Regions from separate parts of the Homo sapiens genome. Here regions 1 and 3 are each linked to region 2. Evidence: fine-mapped expression QTL. A gene starts in region 2. Each other region holds a variant in brackets. All regions are shown on one strand. Distances are from middle to middle.

Region 1 (10,208 bases), 210 kb after region 2:
TAGAAATTCAGTTGACCATATTTATATAGGTCTATTTCTGGGCTTTATTTTATTTGATTGACTTAGGTGTTCAACCTTTTGCCAATATCACGCTTGATTACACTAACTTGAAATAAAGTGGTATGAGTTTTCCAACTTTGCTCTTTTTCAAATTTCTTTTGCTATTCTCGTTCTTTTGCTTTACCCTATATACTTTAGAATCAGCTTGCCAATATATATAAATAATTTTGTGGAGATTTTGATTATAATTGCATTGAACCTATAGATAAATTTGGGGAGAATTGACATCTTATGAATATCCCATAAACACAGTATATCTTCCCATTTATTTGGCCTTTCTTTGGGATTTTTTTTTAAATCAGGGTTTATAACATATAGATCCTGCTGATATTACATTTACTCTTAATATTTTATTTTATGGCACTATTATAAATGGCATAATGTAAAATTTCAATATAAATTATTTATTGGTAGTATATAGAAATACATTTGTTTTGTTTTTTTTGTTTTTTTTTTTTTTTGAGATAAGAGTCTTGTTCTGTTGCCCAGGCTGGAGTGCAGTGGCATGATCTTGGCTCACTGCAACCTTTGCCTCCTGGGTTCAAGTGATTCTCGTGCCTCAGCCTCCCGAGTATCTGGGATTACAGGTGTGTGCCAGCACACCTGGCTAAGTTTTTCTATTTTTAGTAGAGATGGGGTTTCACAATGTTAGCCTGACTGGTCTCGAACTCCTGACCTCAAGTGATCTGCCTGCCTCAGCCTCTCAAAGTGATGGGATTATAGGTGTGAACCACCATGCCTGGCCAAAATTAATTTTTATATATTGATCTTTTTAGTCAATTATGATTATGAGCTCTAGAGCTTTCTTAGAGATTCCTTGGAATTTTCTACATAATGCCTTTTATTTCTTTTTCTGGCCTTATTGCACTGGCTAGGCCTTCCAGAACAATGTTGTAAAAAAGTGGTAAGAGCAAAAGTCTTTCTCTTGTTTCCTATTTTAGGGGAAAGCAGTCTTTTCCCATTAAGTGTGAAATCAACTATACAGTTTTTTCTACATGCGCTTTATCAGTTTTAAAAAAATTTCCTTCCATTATTAGTTTGCTGAGAATTTGTATCATGAATAGATATTGAAAATTTCAAATGCGTTTTCTGTATCTATTGAAGCAATCATGGTTTTCCTTCTTAACCTATTAATATAGTTAATTATACTGATTGACTTTCAAATGTTGAACCAGCCTTACATTCCCAAGACAAATCCTGCTTAGTCATGTTACATTATCCTTTGTAAATATTGCTGGAATAGATTCACTAAAATTTTGTTCAGAATTATTTCACCTATGTTCATAAGGGATATTGGTCTGGTTTTAATGCTGGTCTAATTCTAGCCTAATAAAATGGGTTGTGAAGTATTTCCTTCTTTTCTATTTCTGAGAAAAGATTATATAGATTTGTTACTTCTTCCTTAAATGTTTGGGAGAATAACTCAGTAAAACCATCTGGACGTGGAGTTTTCTTTTTTGAAGTATTTTAACTACAAATTCAATTTCTGTAATAGATATGAGACAAATCAAGTTATCTAATTTCTTCACCAAGCTTTGGTAGTTTGTATGTTTCAAGGAATTAGTCCATTTAATTCCTGATTTAACCCTGATTTAAACACAAATTTGTGGTAATACAGTCATTTGTTTTTCTGTAGTGATATCCACTCTTCCATTCCTGATATTGATAGCTTTTGTCTTCTCTCTCTCTCTCCTTCTTGCTTAGTATAGCTAGAGATTTATGCATTTTATTGATATTTCATTGGCTTTGTCTACTGTTTTTCTGCTTTCATTTTCATTGACTTTTGTTTTTATTTTTGTTAATTCATTTTCTCTGCTTGCTTTGGGTTTAGTTTGTTCTTTTTATCTTTGTTTGTTTTTTTTTTGTTGTTTGTTTGTTTTATGGAGTTTCATTCTTAGCCTCTAAGCTGGAGTGCAATAGCACAATCTTGGCTCACTGCAATCTCCGCCTCCCGGGTTCAATAGATTCTTCTGCCTCAGCCTCCCGAGTAGCTGGGATTACAGGTGCCTGCCATCACACCCAGCTAATTTTTTGTATTTTTAGTAGAGAAGGGGTTTCACCATGTTGGCCTGGCTGGTCTCAAACTCCTGACCTCAGGTGATCCACCCGCCTCGGCCTCCCAAAGTTCTGGGATTACAGGGGTGAACCACCCTGCTCAGCTGTTTGTTCTTTTTTTCTAATGTCTCACTGTGGAAGCTTAAGTTATTGATTTGAGACTTTCTTTTCTAATATGAGCATTTAGTACTATAATTTTCTTCTCTCTAAGCACTTCCACAATTTTTTATAAATTGTATTTTTATTATTAATTATTTTAAAATATTTTATTATTTCCCTTGAAACTTACTTGACCAATGGGTTATTTAGAACTGTGTTGTTTAACACAGTTACACTGCGTTGTTTAACTTCCAAATGTTTAGGTATTTTCTAGATATCCTTGATTTTTTATTTTTTTCTTTAACCATGTATGGTCATACATATTATTGTCAACATATTTGGTATGATTTCAATTATTTTAAAATTGTTAAGGTTTATTTAATGGTTCAGAATGTGTCCTTTATAGGTACTTGAAAAGAATGAGTTTTGCTGTTTTGGAGTGGGTTGGCACCTGTTAGTGGTTTTTCCCTTGACTATTGGTCACATTTTCCTGGTTCTTTGTATGTTAAGTAGTTTCAGATTGTATTTTAGACAATCTGATATTATGTTGTGAGACTCTGAGTCCTGTTAAAATCCTCTAGAGAATATTGATTTTCCATAATGACCACCCTGATATGCAGTTCCACACAACTGGAGAGACAAAGAGAACGAAAACAAAAATTTTCCCCCATCCACTTGGGATGATAGGGAACTCTTTTGAAGATCCTCTGACCAGAGAGACAGTGGTTTGTTTGTTTGCTTTCTCAGTGTTTTAGGTGCACATGCCACAACTGCTGCAGAGAAGCTCTAGACTGTGGCCACTCCTCGCTTAGAGATAGGAGGAAAAAAGAGGGGAAAAACAGAAAAAAAAAAAGCCTTGGAATATATTCTACACTTTTCAGCTTACAGAGGTCTCTGTATCTGTTTGGTTCAACAAAGGAGATTTCTCTGAGTTTTGATGTCTGCTCCTACTGCTCAGTTCCATAATTAGGGCCATTTTCATTTCAAAGCAGTGAGATACAAAAGCAAAAATAACTCAGGATTCTCATCCTAATACTGGTTTTTCTTCAAATTTTGACTTTCAAACTATCTTCTGGTGTTTACTTTTCAGAGTCCTTAAATAGTTACTTTCTGTATTCATTTTTAGCTGTAATCTGTGAGAGAGACAGACTATAGAGGGCTGACTTTATCTTGGCCGGCAATGGCGGTCTCAGTAATATTTAACATCTAATAATTATTGAATTCCATGTACAACTCGCATCTCCTATCCTACCCTCTTTAGGAGGGCTTTTAAGAATGCTGGATAGTGGGAATTTTAGAGACATTGTGGGCTGACTTCTGTTTTCACTGGGAGAGGTGGGAACAGCTTTGTTAGGTAAGCATTTTCTGGCATCTACTTGGGACTCATTTGCATATTGGTAGCTTCAACCTCACACAAATCATATTGATCCGGTATCCCATTTTTATGTTCACACTCTGGAAACATGTACTAGTACTGCCACCTATATCTGCAATACTTAGTGTAATTGCTGGTTTATATGTCTGTCTCCTCCTTGAGGTTCCTTAAGGACAGAGAATGTTCTCTGCCTTCTGAGTTCCTAGCACAAATTCTGGCACATAGAAGGAACATAATAATTTTTTTTAAATTTGTGAACTTGCTTAAAATTGAATTTCATATTCTTGGAATGAGGGATAACATTTTTCTCGTCTTAAACAAGTATGATAAAAATACCCCACATATCTCTGAGAACCATCTTGTAATTGCAGCCTTCTCATGCCTGAGAAAGGTAAACACTACACACAAGAGTATCATGGAGTGGCCACACTGTGTCTTCTCTGCTTCAGAGATAGGTAAATCAAGGCACGGGAAAGTCAGGTGTCTTTGTATTCAACCTCAGATTATTAAGCACCTCAAAGAAACTGAAATGGAGAATCTGTGTCAACTCTTTCTTAGAATGGCAGTTCTGATCTCAATTTCCTTCAACTGCATAATAGAATACACAACTCAGTATCTATTTACACATCACTGCTTTTTCTTTTTGCATTAAGACATCATTTTAGAATAGGTTTTCTGACTTCCTCCGTGTCTCTGACTGCATTAACTACCAAAAGCGTGGCTGAGCCACACTTCGCTGACATCATTGTGCTCCCACCTCAAATCATTTTCATCCTATTGTGAAGCAAAAGCCTTAAAAATGCTCTTTAGTTTTTTTTATTTTTATTTTTAAAGGACATTTACATCCAGCCATTTTATGAGTGCAGTCAAGGCAATTTCATGTTATTTTCCAAGACTTTTACACACTTGGAGAGCCTGGCAAAATGCATTCGAGATGTTTGAGCAAGAGGTCCCATCAGTTATTCACCTGCATGTTTTAAATTGGGTGCCTGCCCTGACCGGCTGAACACTCCATTCATCGAATTGCCTGGAACAGCTCCATGGCCTTCAGGAGCCTCATGCACATCTCACACTGTTGCAAAATTGCCTTCAGACAGGATTCTGATTTCCGTCAGAGAATTTTAAATTCCAGCTAATGGAATGCTTTGAAGGCATGTGCCACAGACTTCTGCCCAGTGCAAGTCCTGTGTGTGAGCAAATCTAGCAGGGACTCCAGAGCCTGGACAGCAGAAAGCTGCACTTCCTCAAGAGGACGCAGGATCCTCTCACTTTCCCAGTTATCCTACAGCTGACTAGTCAGCTGAGGGATTCACCTGGTGTCTGTATCTCCCCACTAGCTTCTTACTGTGGGAAGAGAAAGAATAGGATCCTGCTGGGAGCCAGGAGTCCCTGGGTTTAATTAATGGCCTTTTGGCTTTCTTCCCTTCCCCTCTCCACCGTGTGCACTGGTGGACACTGGTCCCCATCCCTGAGGTTCAGTCCTGCCCTGGATTCCAGGTCTACGCCAAGCCGAGAAGGTTTTGGATGAGAAGAGCTGAGTAATTTGCTTCGTCAACAATTTTTGAAACAATGCTTGAGATAACCTTTGGAATCTGGGTTCTTCAACTACATGGTTTCTGTCTTACTTTTCTCTTGCAGGAGGGTCAGTGCTTTCATTCCCAGCCAGCTATTCCTTGTTCTTCATGTCCTCTACCACCTAGTCCCAAATATACAATGAGAACTCCTGGATCTCTTAGTTTCTAGGTGTCCAGTTCTACTTGCCCTTAAATTAATGACTTCCATCCAGGGCACAGTGGTTTTGTTTGATTGTATCAATGGATTAGACAGGCCCAAATCTAATTAAAAGCTTTGCCCCTGTCTAGTTGGAGGGCCTTAAGAAAGGCACTTGACATCTCTGAGACCCAATTTTCTCATCTGCAGAACAGTTTTACTAAGATGTCCTAAAGATTAAATTATATAATATATAAAGAGTCTAGCAAAGAGTAAGCCTGTAAATGATGGCTATTATTATTATTTTTACTAGTATTTGACTATCCATTAGTCCATGGATAAATGAGTCTATCTTTGGCTCAACTCTCACATTCAGATATATTCTATGCTTTCACCTGAA[G/C]TTGGGGATCCTCCATGGATTACTGGTCCTACCTCAATTATTTTTCCTGCTTGTTCTCTGCCTTATTTGTCCTTCTGCTTCCTGAGCCCCTAATTTATTCATGTGAAAAAGCAAAATTGCACAATGTAAATTCTATGAGAACAGCTTCACTCTAAGGTAAATTATAATGTCTTGTCTTATTCATGAAATGACTGAATGTTGATGGTCATGTATATCATCTACTAAAATGATAGAATGAATCCTTTAGACACTCTAGAAATAGTTTGTTCTATTTTTCTCTACTTGACTGATGATCTGTTGGGATCAGAACAGATATTCACAATATTAAAACTATAGTAAATGGTTTTGTGGTTGTAACCAATGACAAATAATTTTTTCTCTCTGAATCTGACATCCTCCACATCTACTCTCTGGGATGGAAATGTCTTTAGTGATACTGCCAAAAGAAGCATCAGAGAGAGATTAGATAGATATGACCTTTCCATGAATTTTAAGAGGAAGACTCTGATATGGTTTGACTTTGTGTCCCCACTGAAATCTCATCTTGCATTGTAATCCTCAGGTGCCAAGGGAAGAACCTGGTGGGAGGTGATTGGATCTTGGGGGTGGTTCCCCCATGCTATTCTCATGATAGTTGTCACAAGAGCTGATGGTTTTAAAGTGTGGTACTTCCTGATGCTCGCTCTCGCTCTCTTGCTTTCTGTCTCTCTCTCTCTCTCTCTCTTGCAGTCTCTCTCTCTCTCTCTGTTGCCTGCCGCATGTAAGATGTGCCTTGCTTCCCCTTCACCTTCTACCATGATTGTAAGTTTCCTGAGGCCTCCCCAGCCATGCAGAACTATGAGTCAATTAAACCTCCTTTCTTTATAAATACTCAGTCTCTGGTGGTATTCTTCATAGCAGTGTGAAAACGGACTAATACAGAGAATTGGTACCAAGGTAGTGTGGTACTGCTATAAAGATAACTTGAGAATGTGGAAGCAACTTTGGAACTGGATAACAGGCAGAGGTTGGAACAGTTTGGAAGGCTCAGATGAAGACAAGAGGATAAATGAAAGTTTGGAACTTCCTAGAGACTTGTTGAATTGTTTTGACCAAAATGCTAATAGTGATATAGACAATGAAGTCCAGGCTGAGATGGTCTCAGATGTAAATGAGGAACCTATTGGGAGCTGGAGTAAAGGTCACTCTTACTATGCTTTAGCAAAGAGACTGGCAGCATTTTTCACCTGCTCCGGAGATCTGTGGAACTTTGAACTTAAGAGAGATGATTTAGGGTATCTGGCAGAAGAAATTTCTAAGCAGCAAAGCATTCAAGAGGTAATCTGGTTGATTCTGAAAGCGTTCAGTTACATGCGCTCACAAAGAGATGGTTTGAAATTGGAACTTATATTTAAAAGGGAAGCAGAGCATAAAGATTTGGAAAATGTACAGCCTGACTATGTGGTAGAAATTTTTCTGGGAAGAAATTCAAGCCAGCTGCAGAAATTTGCATAAGTAACAAGGAGCCAAATGTTAATCACCAAGACAATGGGGGAAATGTCTCCAGGGCCTTTCAGAGATCTTCAAAGTAGCCCCTCCCATCACAGGCCCAAAGGCCTAAGAGGGAAAATGTCCTCAGGGCCCTGGGCCCTGCTGCTCTGTGCAGCCTTGGGACATGGTGTCCTGCATCCCAGCCACTCCAGCTCCAGCTGTGGCTAAGAGGGGCCAAGGTACAGCTCAGACCATTGCTTCAGAGAATGCAAGCCCCAAAACCTTGGCAGCTTCCACATGATGTTTGGCCTGTGAGTATTCAGAATACAAGAGTTGAGCTTTCAGAACCTCCATCTGGATTTCAGAGAATGTGTGGAAAAGCCTGGATGTCCAGGCAGAAGTCTGCAAGAGGGGTGGAGCCCTTATTGAGAACCTCTGTTAGGCAGTGCAGAAGGGAAATGTGGGGTTGGAGTGCCCATACAGAGTCTCCACTGAGGTACTGCCTTGTGGAGCTGTGAGAAAAGGGCTACCATCCTCCAGACCCCAGAAAGGTAGATCCACCAACAGCTTGCACCTTGCACCTGAAAAAGCCACAGACATTCATTGCCATCCCATGAAAGCAGCTGGAGGGGCTGTACCCTGCTAAGCCACAGGGGTGGAGCTGCCCAAGGCCATGGGAACCCACGCCTTGCATCAGCATGCCCTGGGTGTGAGACATGGAGTCAAAGGAGATCATTTTGGAGCTTTAAGATTTAATGACTGCCCGGCTGGGTTTTAGATTTTCATGTGGCCTGTGGGCCCTTTGTTTTGGCCAATTTCTCCTATTTGGATGGGAATACTTACCCAATGCCTGTATTGCTACTGTATCTTTTTTTTTTCTTTTGGAGATGGAGTCTCCCTCTGTCACCCAGGCTGGAGTGCACTGGTGCGATCTCGGTTCACTGCAACCTCTAACTCCCACATTCAAGCAGTTCTCCTGCCTCAGCCTCCTAAGTAGCTGGGACTATAAGCGCCAGCCACCACACCCAGCTAATTTTTGTATCTTTAGTAGAGATGGGGTTTCACCATGTTGGGTAGGCTAGTCTTGAACTCCTGACCTCAGGTGATCCACCTGCCTTAGCCTCCCAAAGTGCTGGGATTACAGGTGTGAGCCACTGCACCTGGCCCCCTATTGTATCTTGGAAGTAACTAACTTGCTTTTTATTTTACAGACTCATAGGTAGAAGGAACTTGCCTTGTCTTAGATGAGACTCTGGACTTGGACTTTCAGGTTGATACTGGAATGAGTTAAGACTTTAAGACTGTTGGGAAGGAATGGTTGGTTTTGAAACTTGAAAGGGACATGAAATTTTGGAGGGGCCAGGGGTGAAATAATATGGTTTGTCTCTGTGTCCCCACCAAAATCTCATTTCAAATTGTAATCCTCAGGTGTCAAGGGAGGAACCTGGTGGGAAGTGATTGGATCATGGAGGTGGTTTCCCCCATGCTGTTCTCACGATAGTGAGTGAGTTCTCATGAGAGCTGATGGTTTTAAAGTGTGGCACTTCCTGGTTTGTTCTCTCTCTCTCTCTCTCTCTCTCTGTCTCACCTGCTGCTATGTAAGATGTGCCTTGTCTTCCACCATAATTGTGAATTTCCTGAGGCCCCCCCCAGCCATGCAGAACTGTGAGTCAATTAAACCTCCTTTCTTTATAAATTACCCAGTCTCTGGTGGTATTCTTTATATCAGTGTGAAAACAGACTAATACAGACTCCTTCCCTGGACACTAGAACCATGATGGCATTAGGGATGGAGTTATTAATGCATAATAGCAGAAAGCTCTTTACCTCAACATTATAAAGATAATAAAGGTATAGTTAACAATGATTGTACACACATTGTAGATTCCATTACAGTATTAAATTGAGCAATAGTGTTTGCAGCAAACTATGGGCATTTTTCTTTAATTTCCCCTCCCATTAAATTATTCTTTAATTTCTCCTCCCATTAAAGGAGAGGGTGGTCTCTTTTCAGGTAAGGATTGCTCATCTCTTTCTTCTTCATGCCTCATGCCGTGCATGCCCCATGCAGGTGTAAGCTAGATGGCATTCTGTATGTCAGGACCATTTTTCATTACTGCAAAATACTCTAAGTTTTAAAGAAAAGAATTTCTATCCTATGCATTGCTATAAGGCTTTTTATTCCAACATATGGTATTAAATAGGAGTTATGTGCTCAATTGTGAATTTATATGAAAAGGAGGTTAGGATACAACAGGCATAGAGGAAACATCATGTGAAGACACAGGGAGAAAACGCTTATCTGCAAATCAAGAGGAAAGATCCCAGAAGAAACTAACCCTGCTGATAGATACCTTGATCTCCGACACCTGTCTGTGGTACTTGGTGATGGCGCCCTAGCAAACTAATATAATTGTGATGAAACACAGAGGCCCAAGAGTGGCCTTTGTGTTTCATTTCAGTGCTCTATGTTCTGGCCAATTGTCTGTCACCTTCCTTTGTGCGTGAATGAGTCCCCTGTGGGCAAAAGCAGAGGCCACCCGTGGGGGCATACCTAGATGGGCGGCAGGCAGACAACCACTATCTGTCATCTACCCAACCACCACTTATGTCCTTTTCCCTCCATATCCCTCCTCTTTCACCATCCCTCCCCTCCTACTCACCTTCTTCAGGTAGCAGGAGTGGGAGGTAGGAAAAAGCAACAGACTTATTAATGTTAAAGATCCAAGCTGCAAACCTTTGCCTCTGCTTAGCTTTTTGGTTTCAGACTCTTTCTCTAGGCAAAATTTTCTCAAAATTGTCTGCTACAGGAATTCAGAGAAACATTTAAAACTCTAAAAGTAGACCGATACCACCACCTTCCCCATCCTCCACCCAACCAGGCTGTGACAGTAGGTAAAATCTGTATACCGACACCAATTCCCTTGATGGCATTTGGATCCATTTCCAATTGAGAAGCAGTCATCTATCCTTTTTCATTAGCTTCGCCTTCACTGGTGAGAAGTTAGTGGGAAGTAAAGACTCTGGAGGCCTGGAGTT
Region 2 (9,786 bases):
TATAAATACAGGAAATAATTTACTTCAAATTAACAATTAAGTTTTTATTTTGTAACTAAAAAAAAAATTTCCAGAAGGGTTTGATTTTCTAAAATTTAAGTCATTCAGTAATTACTTACTTGCTGTTTGCTCCTACTCCAGCCACAAACCGTTTCCGAGGATACCTGTCTTTAAGTTGTTTTAAAGTCATTCTGTTCTGGGCTACAACCCAGACATCACCACCTTTTCCACCTTCTCCACCTAAACGAGGATAACCCATTCCACCGGATCCTCCCCTGGTGAAGAGTCTTAGCTTATCGATGAAATTTCCATACTTAAAAAAAAAAGAGAAAGAATATTTGTATACCAAAAGTGTATCACCTTAGAACCTTTTTCTAGTTCTTTCTTCCACTAAAACTTCTTCTAAAAAAGTCGTTAATAGCTTTTCACATGCCAATTCTATAACATTTTCTTAGCTCACCTCCACATCTCCGATCTGACCCCCTTTCCCATTTGATTATCTCTCTTAAGTCCCTTTTAGTTTTTTCAGTTATCAATTATTGTCCCACCTATCCTGAGGGTTTCTGACTTGGCCCTGTTTTCATTCTAGACTTTCTCCCCTGGGTAATTTCTGCTTGTACCAATAACCATCACCTAGGTGAGATATTTTCTATGTCCAATCTGTCAGACATTTCCACCAGGATGAAAGCTTTTAATAGTATAAAGCAAATGTGAGCAGAATGTGTATTTAACTTATATTTGAAATTCCCCAATATGAAACTTGTTCTTACATATCAGTTGAATAATAGCCACCTCAAAAATAAATGTTAACATAACAAAACCAAACTCTTCCCCAGGTAAAATCTGTTCCTCCAATGTTCTCTAAAGTAACAGAACCATGGTTTACATATTCATTGAGACTACACAAATGGAAGTCTTTCAGACTACACCTGCTTCTTTTCCCAAAGCCCTACTCTCTTCTCTCCAGTACCACTGCCCTAGTACCTGCACCACATGAGCTCCTTTCAGTGTTTAGGCATTTTTTCCTTATTGCATTCTCCAACTTGTTGCCTGAACTATTTTTCTGAAATTGATCTGATCTCTAATCATGTTTCTCCTTTACTCAAAAACCATGCATTAAAAAAATGCTTATGAGCCAAGTGCAGTGGCTCATGCCTGTAATCCCAGCACTCTGGGAGGCCAAGGTGGGCGGATCACGAGTTCAGGAGATCGAGACCATCCTGGCTAACATGGAGAAACCCTGTCTCTACTAAAAATACAAAAAAACTAGCCAGGCGTGGTGGCGGGCGCCTGTAGTCCCAGCTACTCTGCAGGCTGAGGCAGGAGAATGGCATGAACCTGGGAGGCAGAGCTTGCAGTGGGCCGAGATCAAGCCACTGCACTCTAGCCTGGGCGACAGAGCGAGACTCCGTCTCAAAAAAAAAAATGCTTATGAAATAAAGTAAAAAATTCTTAGTACTACAGTTGACCCTTGAACAACACTGGTTTGAGCTGCGTGTGTCCACTTATATACAGATATTTTTCAATAAATATATTAGAAAAATTTTTTGAGCTTTGCAACAATTTGAAAAAACTTACAAAGCAAATAGATTGGAAATATTGAAAAAATTAAGAAAAGCTGTGTGTTATGAGTGCAAAAAATATATAGATGCTAATCTATTTTGTCATTTACTTCCATAAAATATACACATATCTATCTTAATTTTTAAAAACTAGAGATGGGGTTTTGCTATGTTGCCCAGGCTGGTCTCAAACTCCTGGCCACAAACAATCCTCTTGCCTTGGCCTCCCAAAGTGCTGGAATTACAGGCATGAGCTACTGCACCTGGCCACACATCTATTATAAAAACTTAAAATTTATCAAAACTTACACACACACTTACAGATCTTACATGGCAGCATTTGCAGTCAAGAGAAATGTAAGCAAATGTAAAAATGCAGTATTAAATCATAACTGCATAAAATTAACTGTAGTACATCGTGGAATACTGTAATAATTTCGTAGTTACCTCCTGTAACTATCCCGGGATCTCAAGTGTCCCAAGTTGCCACTTAAAAGGCCATGTGATGCTAATCGTCTCCCCATGAGCAGTTCATCTTGCCAGTACATTTTATAAGTCAGTAAAAAGTAATCTCTCACAGTTCTCTTGCATTTTTCATCATGTTCAGCGCTACACTGTAAACCTTGAACACCACCATGGAACCCATACAAAGTGCCACTAGTGATGCTGGCAGTGCTCCCAAGAAGTAAAGTCATGACACTACGATAAAAAGATGAATTGCTTGATATCTACCACAGATTAAAATCTGTAGCTGCGATGGCCTGCTATCTCAAGATAAATGAATCCAGAATAAGAATCAGTGTAAAAAAAGACAAAAATTCATGAAGCCACTGCAGCAGCTATGCCAAAAGGTGTGAAAACCTTGCACTTTTTGTGAATTAACTTTTTATCTTGTATTAAAAAGGCAACTTTTATGTAGATGCAGGATTCCTATTTTAAAAACATAGACTAATACAATAAAAGAAAAAGTAAGGTTACCATATGACAACTTAAAAGCAAAAGGAATGTGAAGGATCTAAAGCTAAAGAATTAATTGCCAGCAAAGGATGATTTGATAATTTTAGAAGGAGGTTTGACTGTGGAAGACAGTTCTAGATTCCTCAAGAATCTAGAACTAGAAATACCATTTGACCCAGCCATCCCATTACTGGATATATACCCAAAGGATTAAAAATCATGCCACTATAAAGACACATGCACACGTATGTTTATTGTGGCACTATTCACAACAGCAAAGACTTGGAACCAACCCAAATGTCCATCAATGATAGACTGGATTAAGAAAATGTGGCACATATACACGATGGAATACTATGCAGCCATAAAAAGGATGAGTGACATGGATGCAGCTGGAAACCATCATTCTGACCAAACTATCACAAGGACAGAAAACCAAACACCACATGTTCTCACTCATAGGTGGGAACTGAACAATGAGAACACTTGGGACACGGGGGGAACATCACACACTGGGACCTGTCATGGGGTTGGGGGCTGGGTGAGAGATAACATTAGGAGAAATACCCAATGTAAATGACAAGTTAATGGGTGCAGCAAACCAACATGGCACATGTATACCTATGTAACAAACCTGCACGCTGTGTACATGTACCCTAGAACTTAAAGTATAATTTAAAAAAAAAAAAGAAGAAATAGGTTTGGCTTTGGCTTTAGAAATATCAAGATAACAGGTGAAGCAGGTTCTGCCAACTAAGAGGCAGCAGATGAGTTCCCAGATGCCATTAAGAAAATCACTGAGACGAAAGAATATCTCCCAAATCAGGTTGTTAATGCTGATGAAAGTACCCTATTCTGGAAAACATGCTACAAAAGACATTAGTAAGGAAGAGAAGGGAGCACCAGGATTTAAGCCAGGAAGGGATAGGCTAACCCTACTGTATTGTGCAAATGCAGTTGTGTTTGTAATCAGGACTGTCCTTATCTATAAAGCTGCTAACCCCTCAATCTTGAAAGGGAAAGATAAACATCAGCTGCCAGTCTTTGTTGGATAAGAAGGCCTAGAGAACAAAAACCTTTTCTCTGGATTGGTTCCATGGATGCTTTCTCCCTGAAGTCAGGAAGTACCTTCCCAATACGAGACTGACTTGTAAAGTTCCTCTGCTAATGGACAGTGCCCCACCTCCCCGCTACCCAGAACCCCATGAGTTCAACATCAAAGGCACTGAAGTGGTGTCCTTGCCCCCAAACACAATGTCTGTAAATCAGCCTCTAGATCACGGGGTCGCAAGGACCTTTAAGGCTCATTAAACATGATTTTCTACGAAAAGGATTGTCAACCATGGAAAAGAACACTAATAGAGAAAACTTCAGGAAAATCTGAAGTTTACATAATTGAAGATGCCATTATTATTGAAAAAGCCATGAAAGCCATAAGCCCCAAACAGTAAGTTCGTGCTGGAGAAAACTTTGTCCAGGTGTTGTGTTGTGTTATAATTTCACAGGATTTACAAAAGAGCCAATCAAGGAAATCATGAAAGAGGCTGTGAATATGCCAAAAACGGCGGGAAAGTGGGTAAAGGACTTCAAGATATGGATCTTGAAGAAACTCAAGAGCTAACAGCCACCAAACCAGAGGAATTAACAGAAGACAGCTTGATGAGTGCTTCAGATCCAGTGCCAGATAACAAGGAAGAAAACACAGAATAAACTACCAGAAAAACGAACATTAGATAATCTGGCAGAAGAGCTCCTATTGTTCAGGACTGCTTTTGACTTCTTTTATGACATGGACCCTTCTGTGAAGAGGCACTGAAACCAAAGCAAATGGTGGAAGAGGTATTGGTACCCTATAGAAACATTTTTTTGGGGGAAAGAGAAAAGCAAAAGCATGACAGAAATTATGATGTACTTCCATAAAGTTACACATAGTGTGTCTGCCTCTCTTGCCTCCCCTTCCACCTCCTCCACCCCCACCCCTTCTGCCTCTGCCACCCAAGAGAGCAAGACCAACTCCTCCTCTTCCTCCTCAGTCTATTCAACATGAAGACTATAAGGATGAAGACCTTTACAATTCACTTCCATTTAATGAACAGTAAATATATTTTCCCTTCTTTCTGACTTTCTTAGTAACTGTTTCTTTTCTCTAGCTTAATTTAAGAATACAGTATATACTATATATATATTTTATATGTGTCAACTGACGGCTTATGTTATCAGTGAGGCTTCCAGCCAACAGATTATTAGTAGTTGTTTTGTGGGGGGAGTTGAAAGTTACATGAAGATTTTCAGCTGTGGCGGGGGCATCTCTAACCCCCATGTTCTTGAAGGGTCAACTGTATATCCAAAGCTACTAAAATACCCTTCTGGTATCTTTTATTTTCTTTTTTTTGAAACAGGGTCTGGTTCTGGTGCCTGGGCTCGAGTGCCGTGGCACTATCATAGCACTATCATTGCTGCAGCCTCAAACTCCTGGGCTCAAGCAATTCTCCCACTTCAGCCTCCCAAATGGCTGGGACTACAGGCACCACACCACCCCGACTGTTTTAAAGATGGGGTCTTGCTATGTTGCCCAGACTGGTCTTGAACTCCTGGCCTTAAGGGATCCTCCCACCTCAGCCTCCCAAGTAGCAAGAACAATAGGCTCACCTACCATGCCTAGTTCCTTCCTGTATCCTTTTCACTTGCTCAACCCTTCCTCTCTTCCTCTTTGCTCTGTACTACATGAAATACCGCCATTTCTACATGCCATTCTGCTCATGCTTTTCCTCTACTTAGAATGTCATTTGTTTTTCCTATCATAAATCCACCTAAACGTCATATTTTCTAACGTCTTTCCAAATTCCTCTAATCAATTCTCTGACTTTGCTGGCTCTCCCAGCAATTTGATTATATCTCTATTATTACACCTTTATAAATCTCACGCTGCATTTAGTGTTTACCTGTTTCCTTCACTAAATCAAGAACTTCTTGTAGGTAAAGGACTTACGTATTAACCTCTTAGGCTATTAAAATCAAAATAACTTAAGGAGTAATTTCTTAAATTCATAATCCACATCTCTAGTCATTTAGGATAGCTATTATAAAAAACAAATGGGATTTTTTTTTCAAGAAAGTTGAAATATTGACCATTCTGATATACTCGAGGAGAGTTTCTACAGTTCCATTAAATATGTAACACTTTTTTCCTGCTCTAGATTAATCAGATTCAGGGGTTTAGGAGCCTTACTTAAAAGGAGTATTTTACTCTGGTCGTTAGAAATAAAGTAATGGCCAAATATGACGCAGGCAACGTTTCAAAAAGCATTACTGATAGGATAAGATTTAAAAAATAAAAATTCAAAGCAGTTGTAAATTTTTACGGAAACGATTCTTAAGACCGACACCACACAAAAATCGACCTAAATGTTCTGCAGGAAGGCACATCAATTACACGCTTTCGTGTCTTCATAAAAATCCATTAGAAAAACCTTAAACAGCGCACTCAAGGAGAAATATATAAAAACAGGCTGTGGACATTAAAGGAAAAAAAACCACCACAACATTTGGGCCACAGCAGGCAGGTATCCCAGTTCCTCATACCACGTGCACACTATGTCTCTAAAGAACTTCAAACCCTGCCCCTGCCCCCAAACAACCGTCCAAACCACGCCAGGTACACACACCACTGTCACCGCTTACTGACAAAGCGCCACTACAGGAGGGGCGGAGAAGTCTATGGGAAAACCAAGCAAGGAAAAGGCCGCCACGAAGACAGTAGTGGAGAGACAGGGGAGCAAAGAAGAACCAGAGCTGTCAGCGCTAAGGGGACCAGGCTGAGGGGACCCGCACGGACCTTTCTGAACAACACGCAACTGCAATGCACCATGGCTGCAACAGGCCAGGAAACCTTCTTGCGGAAGCGGCACAAGCCGCAGTACAGCGCGGCCTTTTTACGTCATCCCCTGCCGCCGACGCGATTTCTCCTCCGCCCACACCTGCGGACTGGCGCATGCGTTGTGTGATGCTCTCGGGCGCCACCAGCCCCATGCGCTGTGCTTTGCACCCCACGGGTGGGGAGAGAAGGCGTTTTATCTATTAAAACACAGAGATAATCTCGAGAAGCCGTGGGACAAAGGACAGTAGGGCGTAGGTTGCGTGTCTCAGGAATTAACATTTTGAATGGAATGGAACTGAAGACTCAGCAGCCTTGGAGCAGCTTTTATGCTAATTGAGGAAACTAAGAATCTTCACCCTCAGCGTGAAAAAACCTCCAACGGACCATAAAACCAAACGTGTAAAAGACACAGAAACTCAACTGGGAAAAAAGAACCCCCAAAAGCCGTTAGTTCAGTGACGAGCTGAGTAGTCTCCAGCCAAAGCTTCCAGGAGACCATGAATTTAAAACTAGCGGCCGCACAAAGTTTTATTGAAAATAATGTCAGGATCTGAGATCTGTAAGAGGACTCTCCTGTGCAGTAAGAGAAAGAAGCTTGTTTACAACTGTCAGAAAGTAGCTTCTTGGAGTCGGGAAGACGGGTTTTTATCCGTCATTTGAAGCGTGCCTTTGTGAGAATTAAGACACGATGTGAAAAATCCCTCTCTCTCTTGATTACTTTTCAGGACCAGAAGAGAGTAGCTCTCCCCAACCCCTCATGCAGCGAAAAAATGTATGCAGCTGAAGTAAACGGCCCTGCACAGCGTTGCCAGCCGTATAACTCTTAACAACCCAAACTAATAAATCCTAGAAACCTTTCATACTTTGATACGATATGGCTCTGTGTCGCCACCCAAATCTCATCTTCATTTGTAATCCCCATTGTGGAAGTAGGGAAGTGATTGGATCATGCAGGGCTGTTTCTCTCCTGCCGCTCTCCTGATAGGGAGTTCCCACAAGAGCTGACGGTTTTATAAGTGTTTGGAAGTTCCTCCTTCTTTCTTCTCTCTCCTGCTTGCCATGTGAAGAAGGTGCTTGTTTCCGCTTCCCCTTTTGCCATGATTATAAGTTTTCTAAGGCCTCCCCAGCCATGTAGAACTGTGAATCAATTAAGCCTCTTTCCTTTATAAATTACCCAGTCTGCGCAGTTCTTTATGGCACTGTGAAAACTGACTAATACCTCAATGTGACAGTGTCTTCTACTCCTCACTTAGGACAGTGATTATTTGGAAAGACATGATGTGAAAACCCCGTCTTGATTACTTTGCTGCTACTGGACCTTCTGCTTACAACCACCAATCAGAAAAGCTGTAGTTGTCATTTAACCTGCAGTAGTTGTATTTTCCCTCTGTGGATTACTTTAATGTTGAATATTAACACCAGCAACAGATGTTGATTACTATCAGTGTTCCTACCTCTCATTAATATGAACATTAGGTTGTTGCTGTGTAGATGTTTTTAATTTAATGACATTTGCTGCCATTAAGATTACTATCTTACTAGGTTTTCCTATTGTGTCAGAATAGTGTTGAGCCCAATGTACTTATTTTCCAATGCCTATTTCTTGTTAGTGAACACAATCTCAAATACTTTTCTTTCACATAACATATACATGGGGAAATGATCACAGCAACTAAAAAAAAAAAAATGGGAGATTGATATAGAAATATCTCAAAATGATGAGGATCATTGTGTACTGTAAACAAAAAAGAAAGCATAATATTTACCTCTGACAAAATGTGGTCAGGGCCTGAAGTATTTATTATAACTCTCATTACCAGATAGTAAAAGAAACATTGTGTAACTGGAAACTGTCCCCTTTAAAATGTGCAGCTAAAATGAACATGAGGCAAAATGTTTAGGACACTATTCAGACCTAAGGCAGAAGTCATTGTTGGAAAATACTACTACTTCTGCCATGAAGAGGAAAGAATGCCTCCTTAGGGTTGCTCAGTTTGATGTATGGGCAAACCATTAAAGTCAGTGGCACTAAAGAGTCTTGAATAAAGTCCCAAATAAGCCATCGACATGACTCACAATTTGGTTTTAAAAATATTTTAAAACAGGCCAGGCGCAGTGGCTCACGCCTGTAATCCCAGCATTTTGGGAGGCCGAGGCGGGTGGATCACGAGGTCAGGAGATGGAGACCATCCTGGCTAACACGGTGAAACCTCGTCTCTACTAAAAATACAAAAAATTAGCCGGGCGTGATAGTGGGCGCCTGTAGTCCCAGCTACTCAGGAGGCTGAGGCAGGAGAATGGCGTGAACCTGGGAGGCGGAGCTTGCAGTGAGCCGAGATAGCGCCACTACACTTCAGCCTGGGCGACAGAGAGAGACTCTGTCTCAAAAAAAAAAAAAAAAAAAACAAAACAAAACCATATATATACACACATACATATATACATACATATACATATATACATATATACATATATACACATATATACATATATATGCATATATACACATATATACATATATACATATATACACATATATACATATATACATATATACACATATATACATATATACATATATACACACACACACACAATAATGAGGGTTATGAAAAAATTTAATATAGAGTTGTTCTAATTACAATTTTAAATAATTTTATTTTGAAGTACTTTTTAATTTACAGAAGTTACAAAAATAGCCAAAAGAGATTCCATGTAATCTTTATCCAGTTTGCCCGAATGTTAACATCTTTTATAACCATTTTTCAAAACTAAAAAAATTAATATTGCTAGAATATTAACTAAACTACAGACTATTTGCTTTCACTGGTTTTTCACCTATGACTTTACTCCAGGGTCTAATACTAACACCACATTGCATTTAATCTAACATTTAATGTAGATACACTTAAGCATAAAATAGACAAATATATAATTAACAAATCTAATATTTTGTGATGTTATATTGCTTAATTTTGTCAGCAGACTAAAATGAAAAGTGTCTAACTTCATTCTGGGCTTTGCAGATTATTTCAATTGATCTTGTGTCATCATCTCAACTGCTTTTAATTAGATTTCTACCTTTTGTCTATCATGCTTTTAGTTCTGCTTGTTCAAGAGTCCCTAACAAGGTCCGTCTGGCTCAGGCCTTGTAATCAGTAGATACTCTAGGAATATTTGTTAATTTATTCAAACGAAAGACAAGAACTAGATTGCTAACTCCTATAGCATACGAATCACCTGAAGTGGAGCATCGAGTTATTCTTACTCATTAGCCTTATAATCCTTCAGATGTAACAAATCAAATATTATTTGTTTCATGCCGTCAAAATATTACAAGTCTGAGAACCATTATATCTCCCAAATGATGAAGTTAAATGGATCAAACAA
Region 3 (10,208 bases), 27 kb after region 2:
CTTCTGGACTCAAGTGATTCTCCCTCTTCAGCCTCTCAAGTAGCTGGGACTATAGGCGTGTGCCACTGTGCCTGGCTAATTTTTGTATTTTTTTGTAGAGACAGGTTTTTGCCATGTTGCCCAGGCTGGTCTCGAACTCGTGAACTCAAGCAATTTGCCCTCCTTGGCCTCCCAAAGTGCTAGGATTACAGGCATGAGCCACCGTGCCCAGCCTCCCATTTAATTTGTGTACATGGTAAATATAGTCATTGATTTTAATATGTTAAACCAATAGTCCCTAACCTTTTTGGCACTGGGGACCAGTTTTGTGGAGGACAAGTTTTCCACAGATGGGGTGGGTGGGGAGGGCAGGGAGGGATGTTTTGGGATGAAACTTTTTCACTTCAGATCATCAGGCGTTAGATTCTCATAAGGAGCAGCAACCTATATCCCTTGCATGTGCAGTTCACACTAAGGTTCACGCTCCTATGAGAATAATGCTGCTGCTGATCTGACAGGAGGCAAAGCTCAGGTGATAATGCTTGCTGGCCCACAGCTCACCTTCTGCTGTACGGCTGGGTCCTTAACAGACCACAGACTGGTACCAATCTACGGCCTGGGCCCCCCTGTGTTAAACTACCCGTGCATCCCTAGGATAATCCAAGCTTGATACTGCTGGGTTTTTTCTAAGTCCTACTGAATTTGGTATGTCAATATTTTGTTTAGAATTTATTTTTATCTGTAATCATTAGTAAGATGGCCTGTGACTTTACTCTTTTTCAGATCGTCCTTGTCTCATTTTGTTAGAATGAGTCTGGGAGATTTCCTTCTTTTCTAATTTTCAGGAAGTACTTGATCCTTGAAAGTTGCCCTGCAAAATCATATGGGCTTGATTTTTTTTTTCCCAGTGGGAAGATTTTAAACTACTTATTCAAGGTCTTTAAACAGCATTTACTATTCTGGCTTTGTAGTTATTCTTACATGACTGTTATAGATTTTTTTCTTTTTTCTTTTTATTTTCCATAGTCTTTCTTTGTCGCCCAGGCTAGAGTGCAGTGGTGCGATCTCGGCTCACTGCAGCCTCCGTCTCCTGGTTTCCACCGATTCTCCTGCCGCAGCCTTCTGGGCAGTTGGGATTACAGGCACGCGCCACCATGCCTGGCTAATTTTTGTATTTTTAGTAGAGATGGGTTTTCGCCATGTTCACCAGGCTGGTCTCGAACTTTGGACCTCAGGTGATCCACCTGCCTCAGCCTCCCAAAGTGCTAGGATTATAGGCGTGAGCCACTGCGCCTGGCCAAGTTTTATAGATATTTTTTCTAGGAATTTATTAATTTAATTTAAAATTTCAAATATATGGTATATGTTGGTTGTTAGTATTCGTGTATCTAGTTTTAATCTTTATTTGCTATCTATAGATATATATCATTTTCTACCTTTCATTTTCTTTCTTGATCAGCCTCATCAGAGGTTGCTTTATTTTATTCAAAGAATCAACTCTTTTTGCCTTAGTTCACTAATGTGTGTTTTTGTAAAATCTCTTAACTTTTGAGAGCCTTTTTTCTGCTATTTTACCAGCTGTTAAATTTGGTTGCATTTATCACTCTATCAGATTTTCAGCCTCTCTTCTTTTGGCACAAGTGTTTAAAGCTGTTAATTTCCTTTAAAGGATCCTCTTACTGGCTTCTCACAAGTTTTGATATGCAATGTTTTTTAATCACACAGTTTGAAATATTTTATAATTTCCATTGTATTTTATTTTAAAATCGATTGTTTAAAGTTATTGCATAAATAAGTACATTTATTGTTTAAATTTCAAAACATGAAAAACTACGTTCTTGTTTTTATATTTCTTAAAACACTTTTTAGACTTTTAAACTTTCTGTGTTGTGGTCAGGCAACGAAGTTTGAGTGATACTAGTTTTTGAAATTTGTTGAGACTTGCTTTAAATTTCATGAGACTTTATTTTTTCTTTTATTTTATTATTATTATACTTTAAGTTTTAGGGTACATGTGCACAACATGCAGGTTTGTTACATATGTATACATGTGCCATGTTGGTGTGCTGCACCCGAGACTTGCTTTATTTTCTAATGGGAGGAATGTGTTCTTTAACTGCAAGTTTCATGGTTCCTTATAACTTGACGGTTCAAATCATCTACACATTTAGTATTATTTATCATCTTAACCTAAAGGCTTGTGGAACTCTCCCACTATGATAGTGAGTTTGTGAAAATTTCCCTCTACTTCTGTCAGTTTTTGTTTTATGTATTCTGTAGCTTCGTTATTAGGTATATCTAAATTTAGAATATTTTTATCTTCTTCCTGAATTGAGTCTTTTATCATTATGTAGTGTTCCCCTTTCTCCTTCATCGTGCTTTTTTGTATTAATAAAGCTGTCAGTTTAAAATACAATTAACATGTGCATGGTATATTTGTTTCCATTCTTTTCAAGTTTCTCTGTCCTCATTTTGGGTGTGTGTATCTTTTGTAAAAGCACATAGCAGAATTTAAAATCCAACCACATCTTCCTTCCTTTAATCAAGAAGTTCAGACTATTATTATGATTGTTGACTTGAATCTTATAAATTTACTTTCTACTTGTCACTTTTGCTGTGCTTTTTTCTCTCTTCTTGCTTTCTCAATTAATTTTTTATTTGTCAATCTGTTTTTCTCCCTGGTTCAAGAGTTTTGTTCTCTATTTCCGTCATTTAGGAATTGCCTGAGAAATTTTACCATACATATTTAACAACTTTGCAAAGTCTAAATTCAATATCTATATCTCACTTTTTACTGTAGATACCAGTTTTAATAAAGCCTAAACTTACTATCTACATCTCACTTTCCTCTCTTCCTTCTCTCTTTCTCTTCTTTCTTCTTTTCCATATTCTGATTCTTTATGCTTTGCCTCCATCCGCCTTTTCCCTGGAGATTTCACTTTCTTGATCACCCAATGATGATTTAAAAATTATGTTTGTCATCATTTTGCCAGATTCTATTTGAATGTAGCAAGTAGACCCTTCAGAAAAATCACTCACATAAAGAATATCTTCTCTCACTGACTTGGGGGTAGACACCAAGAGTAAAATTTCTAGATCACTTTCAGATTAAACAGATAATGCCAGTTTTCTTCCTTGGTGATTATACCAGCTGATAGTCTCATCAAAAGCATATGAAGTGTTCATTTTCTCAAAAAATTGCTGAGATTGTATTTTACCAAATTAATTTTTGTTAAGCTTCATTTGGGGAAGACAATATATCATTTCCTTGAAATGGCTTTGTTATTAAGTCTATCTAAATTTAGAATATTTCAGTATTTTTTCTCATGTTTACTGAATATTAAGGTCTACTCTTCTGTCAATTACCCTTATTTTTCTATTATTGATTTATATAAGTTCTCTATTCAGAATACCATTCCTGTGTGTGTGTTATAATAATCATACCCAAATATGTACTCCTATTTAGTACATTACTCTAATTCTAATATTAGAATATTCTTTAAAAATGCATTTTAATGACAACTATTACCTGTCTCCTTACATTTTTCTGTATTTTACAACTTTTCAATAGGTTTTGAATACTTGTAAACAGATAAAAATGTTTTATGAAAAATAAAGTATATCTTTCAAAAAAGACGGACAGGAACTATGTGGTTACTCAACAGAGAAATTGAGCCAATTCATTTTAGAAGGAAGCCAACATTAACCCAAAGATGGAAGGGGTTGCTTCCTTTGGGGGTGGGGACATGTGCCCAAGGTTAAGTCACATTGGAAAACAGCTTTGGTGGGTGGACAAATTCCTTGGGAGGGTGGTTTGTTCACGTTTCAGCTGGGATGTTGGATTAGGTCACTCTGCATCTCTGCTAATTGTGAGAGTCCATGATTAATGGTGGACTGAAACACTTGGAAGTCTACAGCAGAAGAATATCTGGTGTGAGATGGATTCGTGTATATCCTACCTAATCCGAGTAAACAAGTCTTCCCCTTTTCTCAGTTCTGTTTTGTGCAGGAGGTGGTCCTGCAGATAGAAGGGGCATAAAAAGGCATTGCCAGGGCAGAACTAATGATTGACTACGTTAGCTCCACCAACAGGATGAGAACAGGGTGGAGCTTTGAATAATGGTGGGTGCTGGGAGAAGTGAGCTTTAGCAGGGACAATGACTGGGGAACTGGGCTGTTTGGTTTGGCACTCATCTCACCCCATGATCTCACCATCCCAGCTCAAGAACCTGTGAGAAGGGTGGCCTGCCTGAGGGGAAATGGGGATAAGGCAGCTGGCTTTGATTTCCCTAGCCCCATCTGATCATCGCTGCTGGGCTATAGGCAGAGCAGGTAGACTTAAACTCATATATAGTCCAAGTGATGTGTTGGGGCTGAGATTGATGGACAACATACATATGTGAAATTCAAGGTACTTGCTCGGGTCTTCATCCATGAAGGGATAAAGGAAACATTTCCCCCAGTGTAGAAGCAAGGGTATGTTTGCGCGTGTGTATGTGTTAGCGTTAATAATAAACTGTGTTTAGCTA[G/T]AGATTAGAACCGTTCAAGGAGGTTTAGCATTTTAAGAGAGTTCACAGCCTTAAGAGAATTTTTCTCTGGATAGGAGAATACGGTGTGGAGCATGGGTGGGCGGAGGGAGAAGATAACTTGGGTATGTGGACTGACTAATGCCGAGATGGATCTTCTCAGCTAAGAAAAAAGAAGGAACAAAGTAAGAAGGAGAGAGCGAAGAAGACCCTGAGCCTTTGGCATAGCAAGAAAGTCGGAGGAGGGCAGGAGAGGCGAGAGCAGCGGCCAAAGCAGGGCCGCAGGGCGCAGAGGCCCCCGAGGTCTGGAGGCTGGGAAGTTGGGCGAGGTCAGGGAGGGGCCTCGAGAGCGCGGCCACCCACGATCTGCCCCCTCACTCAGCCTCTAGAAAAGGATCGCGGTCCCAGCGGCGGGTCTGTCTCGGGAACCCCGCGTGGCCGCAGCAGAACCGGCAGCTCCACCCGCGGTGAGCCAGTGCCAGCCAGAGCCTCCCAGCGCCGAAGCGCACCGCGGCCGAGACGGTTCCGCTGAGCGAGCTTGGGCGCCCGGTGAGCGCTCGGGGTGGGTGACACAGCGCTGCCTCGCCCAGTTCGCCTGCCTCGGGAAGTGGGTCCGCTGGGCAGAGGGCGCCCTGGGCAGGGGTCGTCCCCGCTGAAACCTCTGGTTCCTCGTGGGCAGGAGGCGCCCCGTCCTCCTCCCAACGAGCGTAGCGCACCCAGGACACCGCGCCGGGACGCGCTCCTCGGACGGCGACCAGAGGTCCTCGACTCCCGCGTGGCCTCCCTCTTCTGCGCCCAGGTGACCTGACCCAGGGCTGGGGGCACAGGGAGAGGCGCTAGCCTGAAATTGAGGGGGAAGAAATTCCCTCTGATACATCATGTATCATAAACTGCCAGCTTTCAGCTCAGTCTGGGGAATTTGCACAATTTTCGACGATGTGAAATGACTTGAATGTCCTGTTTAGATTTGATTCGTATGATTTCTCTCTTCAGCCCAACTTTTTTAGGGAGGTGGCAGACGGCTGTGTACGGGGGGAAAGGTGAGTCCTGTGTTCTGGATCTGTTCTCCTCTCCCTATCCCTCCCCGTTGGCTGTCAATGTTGTAAAAGGGACATTTCCAACAGCAGCCTTGAATAGCAGGTGTGTGGCAATTCAATGCCAACTTAGTCTTTAACTTCCTCTTATGTGCTTTGGGCCGATTTTACCCAACAATCAGTTGGCAAGGAGGCATGCAAAGAGGCATTAGAAAAATGTCAAGATTTTGCTGAATGTAATGGGCCCTGCACTATCTCATCCTACCTTATATCACCTTTGTTTTCGTGCCACTTCATGTATGTCTACGTTCATCTTCTCCAACCAGCTCCTAAACAGAGGGAAGCCAAGAATACACCGGATATTAGTGCGTAACAAGTATTTTTCAATACATGAAAATGGAAATAGCAGTAACTTTGAGACTTAAACGGTGTTTGTGAGATCTAGTACCATTTGGGTTAATAATATCTCAATTAACAACAACAAAATACTTCCTATGTTACATGTAGAAAGGACTGTATTTTGATCCACTTAGTTGAAATGTGTTGTGGTAGGTAGGAGTCTTGGATAGGCAGTCAGGAGTCTGAAGACTTGCGGAACCGTATCACTAATGATCTAATCAGTAAAGGGAGAAGGTTGGAGCATAAGCTCTTTAGGGTTTCTGCCACTTTTAAAGGTCTGTGATGAAATGAACCTTTGCATTTTCATAAATGTGTTGCATTTCAAAGACTCTTGATCAGAACGTTGGAAATCAAACCGGAACTGTAATATCCTAAAGGAAGATGTGATAATCAGTAATTTAGAAAAAATGAATACCTAGTAAGCAGATTTGGCTTGATCAAAAGCAAATATATGTGTACTTACAGTTTTTTAGATCAAGTGATTGAATAACTTTTTTAAGTTAAATATATCCTCTCTCATTTTTTTTTCTGTATAGAATATGTGTTTTGCTACAAGAAGATGGTTCTATCTACATTTGGGCTGCATGATGCTGATCAATCTGGTTAATGCTGACTTTGAGTTTCAAAAAGGAGTGCTTGCCAGCATCAGCCCAGGAATCACCAAAGACATTGATCTCCAGTGCTGGAAAGCTTGCTCTTTGACATTGATAGATCTCAAGGAACTCAAGATAGAGCACAATGTGGATGCTTTTTGGAATTTCATGTTGTTCTTGCAAAAATCTCAGCGGCCTGGACATTATAATGTCTTCTTAAACATAGCTCAGGATTTCTGGGACATGTATGTAGACTGCTTGCTTTCAAGATCTCATGGAATGGGCAGAAGACAGGTGATGCCCCCCAAATATAATTTTCCACAGAAAATAACAGGAGGTAATTTAAATGTGTATTTAAGAGAATAGCAGTTTACTTTTCTTTAAAAGTCACTATTTAATTCTTCTGATTTTTTTCAAGTTATCCAACAAGGTAGCAAATTTACCATATTTAGTTTTTTTCCCTAAAATGATAGGTTTTGATTCTCATTTTTACTCATTTTACATTATTTACAAACCACACAAGCTCTGACTTACAATTTTAAATGATCTTGGAATATAATACACTTTGGTAGATAATTAAAATTATCCTTGTTTGCCCATGAATAGTTCATAAGAAAGCCATTTAACCCTGTAATTATTCATATTACATTTGTTGAAGAAATTTTAAACATCAGACATGTATTTAGGCTTTTGAAATTAATTTTTTCAATAGGGTTGTATAAAAGCAGGAAATTTAAGAGTCATATTGGAATGAATATTAACAATTTCTTCTTTTAAATCTTACAGGACTAGATTTTACAAAATGAGAGTATTACATTTAAGAGAAAACATGTAAAATACCTCAAGCAAGATGACAGCGACCTGAAAACTTGTATTTATGAGGTCAAATATTTCTTGTCATAGTTATACAAATTATTTAATACTGATAAACGTTGTTTTTTGTTGTAATTGCTTTATTGCTATTGAATTATTCCAATATTTTCAGATAATTTCTCAATTTTTTACTTAGAAGGTGTCTTTTTAAAGTGTCTTTGTTTTAAAGAAAACATCAGTTAAAAGGCAAATGTGATATATTTTTTAGATACAATAGTCAATGGAATAAAATTGTAACCAATTTTATAAGGTATCTTATATATTAATATTGACTATTAAACTGTGCCAAAACTAATGGCAGTATTATCCTAAAAAGTAATATTTAATGTAGTATATTTTGTGGTTTCTGAAATGTACATTTCATTACCAAGCCATCTTCTATATTAAAGTATTTTTCTATGCATTAAGGACTAAAACCTTTTTATGTTCTCATTTTTATTGTCTTTGTTTTGAAAAAGGAACAATAAACAAAGACAGAAACTTCATTTCAGTAAAGTACAATTTGATAGAATTTTTGTGTTAGCTGAGTTATTTTTTATATTGCCTATTTATATCTCACATCTTATTTCAAAAAGGATGTGAAGCTTTAAAGAAATATACCGAAGAAAAGGAAAACATGAAGTAGTGGAGGAAATTGGAACATTGGGACATGAAGACAGGGAAGTAATACAATGGAGTTACGGTTTAGATTAATACTTTTTGAATGCATGTCGTAAAAGCCTATACCTTTGATAAAGGGTGCCTATAAATTTGGTCTGTTTCCCACTTCTCCTAGTGAAGAGGGACACATGAACAGTTTCAAGATTCACATGCTTATAAGAAAAACCAAACCATATGTTCAACAGAGGTCCAGCCTTTTCCAGGACAAAGAATCAATGAAAATCTCACCCATAGGTTTTCACAGTGGCTACCATGGTTTACAACACTGGTTTCAAGTATCCTTACAATGACAGATTCTCTCCTTTACAGTCTGATTCCAGTACACTCAAACTCAAATATAAAAAGTTTTAAAATCGGCTAAAATAATACTGAACAAGTAACGAACTGCCTGATGGTTTGACTTGATCCAAGAATAAGCTGAATTAAAGGAGGGACGTTCTTTGCATTATTGACCACTTTCAAATTCTGATGATGTATAGACCATTTATTAGGGGTTTTATATATAAACACTCTTAAAATTACATTTTGCATGTAATTTCAGGGGGCTGCATAAACCCCAGGTTAGGAATTTTCAATATTAAAGGACCTCATAGCGTTCGGCAATATTATTTCATATAACCAATTTTGCATGAGTAGCAGATAATATAAGATTGTAGGGCTAATAATTTCCTAGATTGAAAACTTCTTATCTTGCCAATTAAGGGTGGATCCCTAAGCTCAGAAAATCAACTGGTTGGAGGGTAGGGCTAATTAATGTTCTCATAAAAATGACCAGACAGCGTGTAAACATGAGTGATTTTATGTCCATTAAGCTTTTGATTTGTGGAATTTATATGACAAATAATTAGTCTGATATGAGTTTTTAAATTTCAACATATTTTCATATTGACACTTTATTACTGTTTAGCTCTAATCGAAAAGTGATGATTCATTTGAGAGGAGTCACATTTATGTGACAGGAGTAAAAAGTTGAGTTAATCTTGCCAAGAACTTTCCTGTCCTTTCTCATCTCCATATTGAACATCTGTGTTCTTTATCATTAAACTGCTTTTGGTCTAAAAAAAAAAAAATGACCTGACAGCTATCCACCTAGAATTCATTTCCTGCAGAGGAGCCGAAGTGGTACCTAGAGGCAGTATTACAGTTTTCCTCAAAAAAAACAGTTCTCTTTTACAGTCTGTGGGCAAATGATTGAAGCTCAAAAGTTCAATGCTGTAAAGTGAGACCATGTACTTTTAGTCTAAAAAATTGTTCAACCAGTTGTCCTCAATCACTCATAGTTGTCATGACAATTTTATTGCAGCGATGATAAACATTTTAGCTTAAATCAATAAAATTAGTCTTCCAGTTAATGGCAAAATGGTTTTCTAGTTCTTTTAATTGAATTTACATACTACATTGGGTTAAAAATAAGAACATTTGCTAAACTGGGCAATCTGGTTTTAAAACAACTCATCTTAAGCTTTTTGATGATGATTACATACCGTAAATTCCTCCCCGTTTTTGGCACAAATAGTGTCATCTGCATATAAAAAAACTTTTTCTTTCTGTTCATCATTCATTCATTCAACAAATATTCATTAAGCTTTAGGGTATATTAGTGAACAATCCAGACGTAATCTTTGACTCACAGAGTTGACACTGAAGTGGGACAATGCAGGGATAGACTGAAAGATCTAATTCAAAAGCAATTTTATGATATCAAAATAGAAGATAAAAAAGAAGGTGGTCAAAATGAAGCTGAATTGGGACAATATGTATTTCTCTTTTGTCCTATTCAAAATCATTTGACAGTCTAGAGATCATTTTAAAAAACAAACCACCAATTCTTGCAGTGGTACCATGGTAAAGATTCAGTTTCACAGCTTTGGGTTTATGCTGAGCTCATTTGGCTTAGCTCATAACCGATTATTTTTCAGAGAGCTTAAGGCTGAGGAGAAAAAAGGTGGCAAAGGATCTAATATTGACCCCACAAATATTTCTTCATAAGATGATACAAGGGATAATAATTATCTATGTCTAAAGTTCCTCTGCTGTTTCTATCGAATCTTTATTTTTTCTTTTTTTGAGACGGAGTTTCGCTCTTGTTGCTCAGGCTGGAGTGCAATGGCGTGATCTTGGCTCACTGCAGCCTCCGCCTCCCG

Alleles and levels. Alleles are on the strand shown, and positions count from the first base shown. SD is a standard deviation of normalised expression in the study named. Not every link is listed here.
As copies of G replace C in region 1, the expression in spleen of the gene that starts at base 6,413 in region 2 goes down (moderate effect, 0.61 SD a copy in GTEx).

Evidence for each region. PIP is the estimated chance that this variant, and not a neighbour inherited with it, causes the effect. A credible set is the group of variants that fine-mapping cannot tell apart.
Region 1: its variant is the best candidate, but not a certain one, in a credible set for the expression of GTPBP10 in spleen (GTEx, PIP 0.73).
Region 3: its variant is the best candidate, but not a certain one, in a credible set for the expression of GTPBP10 in left ventricle (GTEx, PIP 0.75).

The regions. Positions count from the first base shown.
Region 1 is chr7:90,133,459-90,143,666 of GRCh38, reverse strand. The region is part of intron 2 of STEAP2-AS1 (STEAP2 antisense RNA 1); the gene reads left to right. Among named protein-coding and RNA genes, the nearest start is that of STEAP1, 16 kb to the left of the region's middle. The variant G/C (reference allele first, on the strand shown) is at 5,700.
Region 2 is chr7:90,343,343-90,353,128 of GRCh38, reverse strand. GTPBP10 (GTP binding protein 10) reads right to left here and starts at 6,413. Exons shown (of 10, transcript NM_033107.4): 1 at 6,355-6,413; 2 at 120-313. The coding sequence starts at 6,387. The region is part of intron 1 of LOC107986715 (a long non-coding RNA gene); the gene reads left to right. LOC101927446 (a long non-coding RNA gene) reads right to left here. Exons shown (of 6, transcript NR_110085.1): 6 at 9,035-9,786. RefSeq lists enhancers at 6,168-6,597, 6,808-6,947.
Region 3 is chr7:90,316,018-90,326,225 of GRCh38, reverse strand. FAM237B (family with sequence similarity 237 member B) reads left to right here and starts at 4,922. Exons shown (of 3, transcript NM_001384237.2): 1 at 4,922-5,304; 2 at 5,499-5,545; 3 at 6,475-9,419. The coding sequence starts at 6,478. The coding sequence ends at 6,897. It also overlaps a transcript of CFAP69 not described here. The variant G/T (reference allele first, on the strand shown) is at 4,509.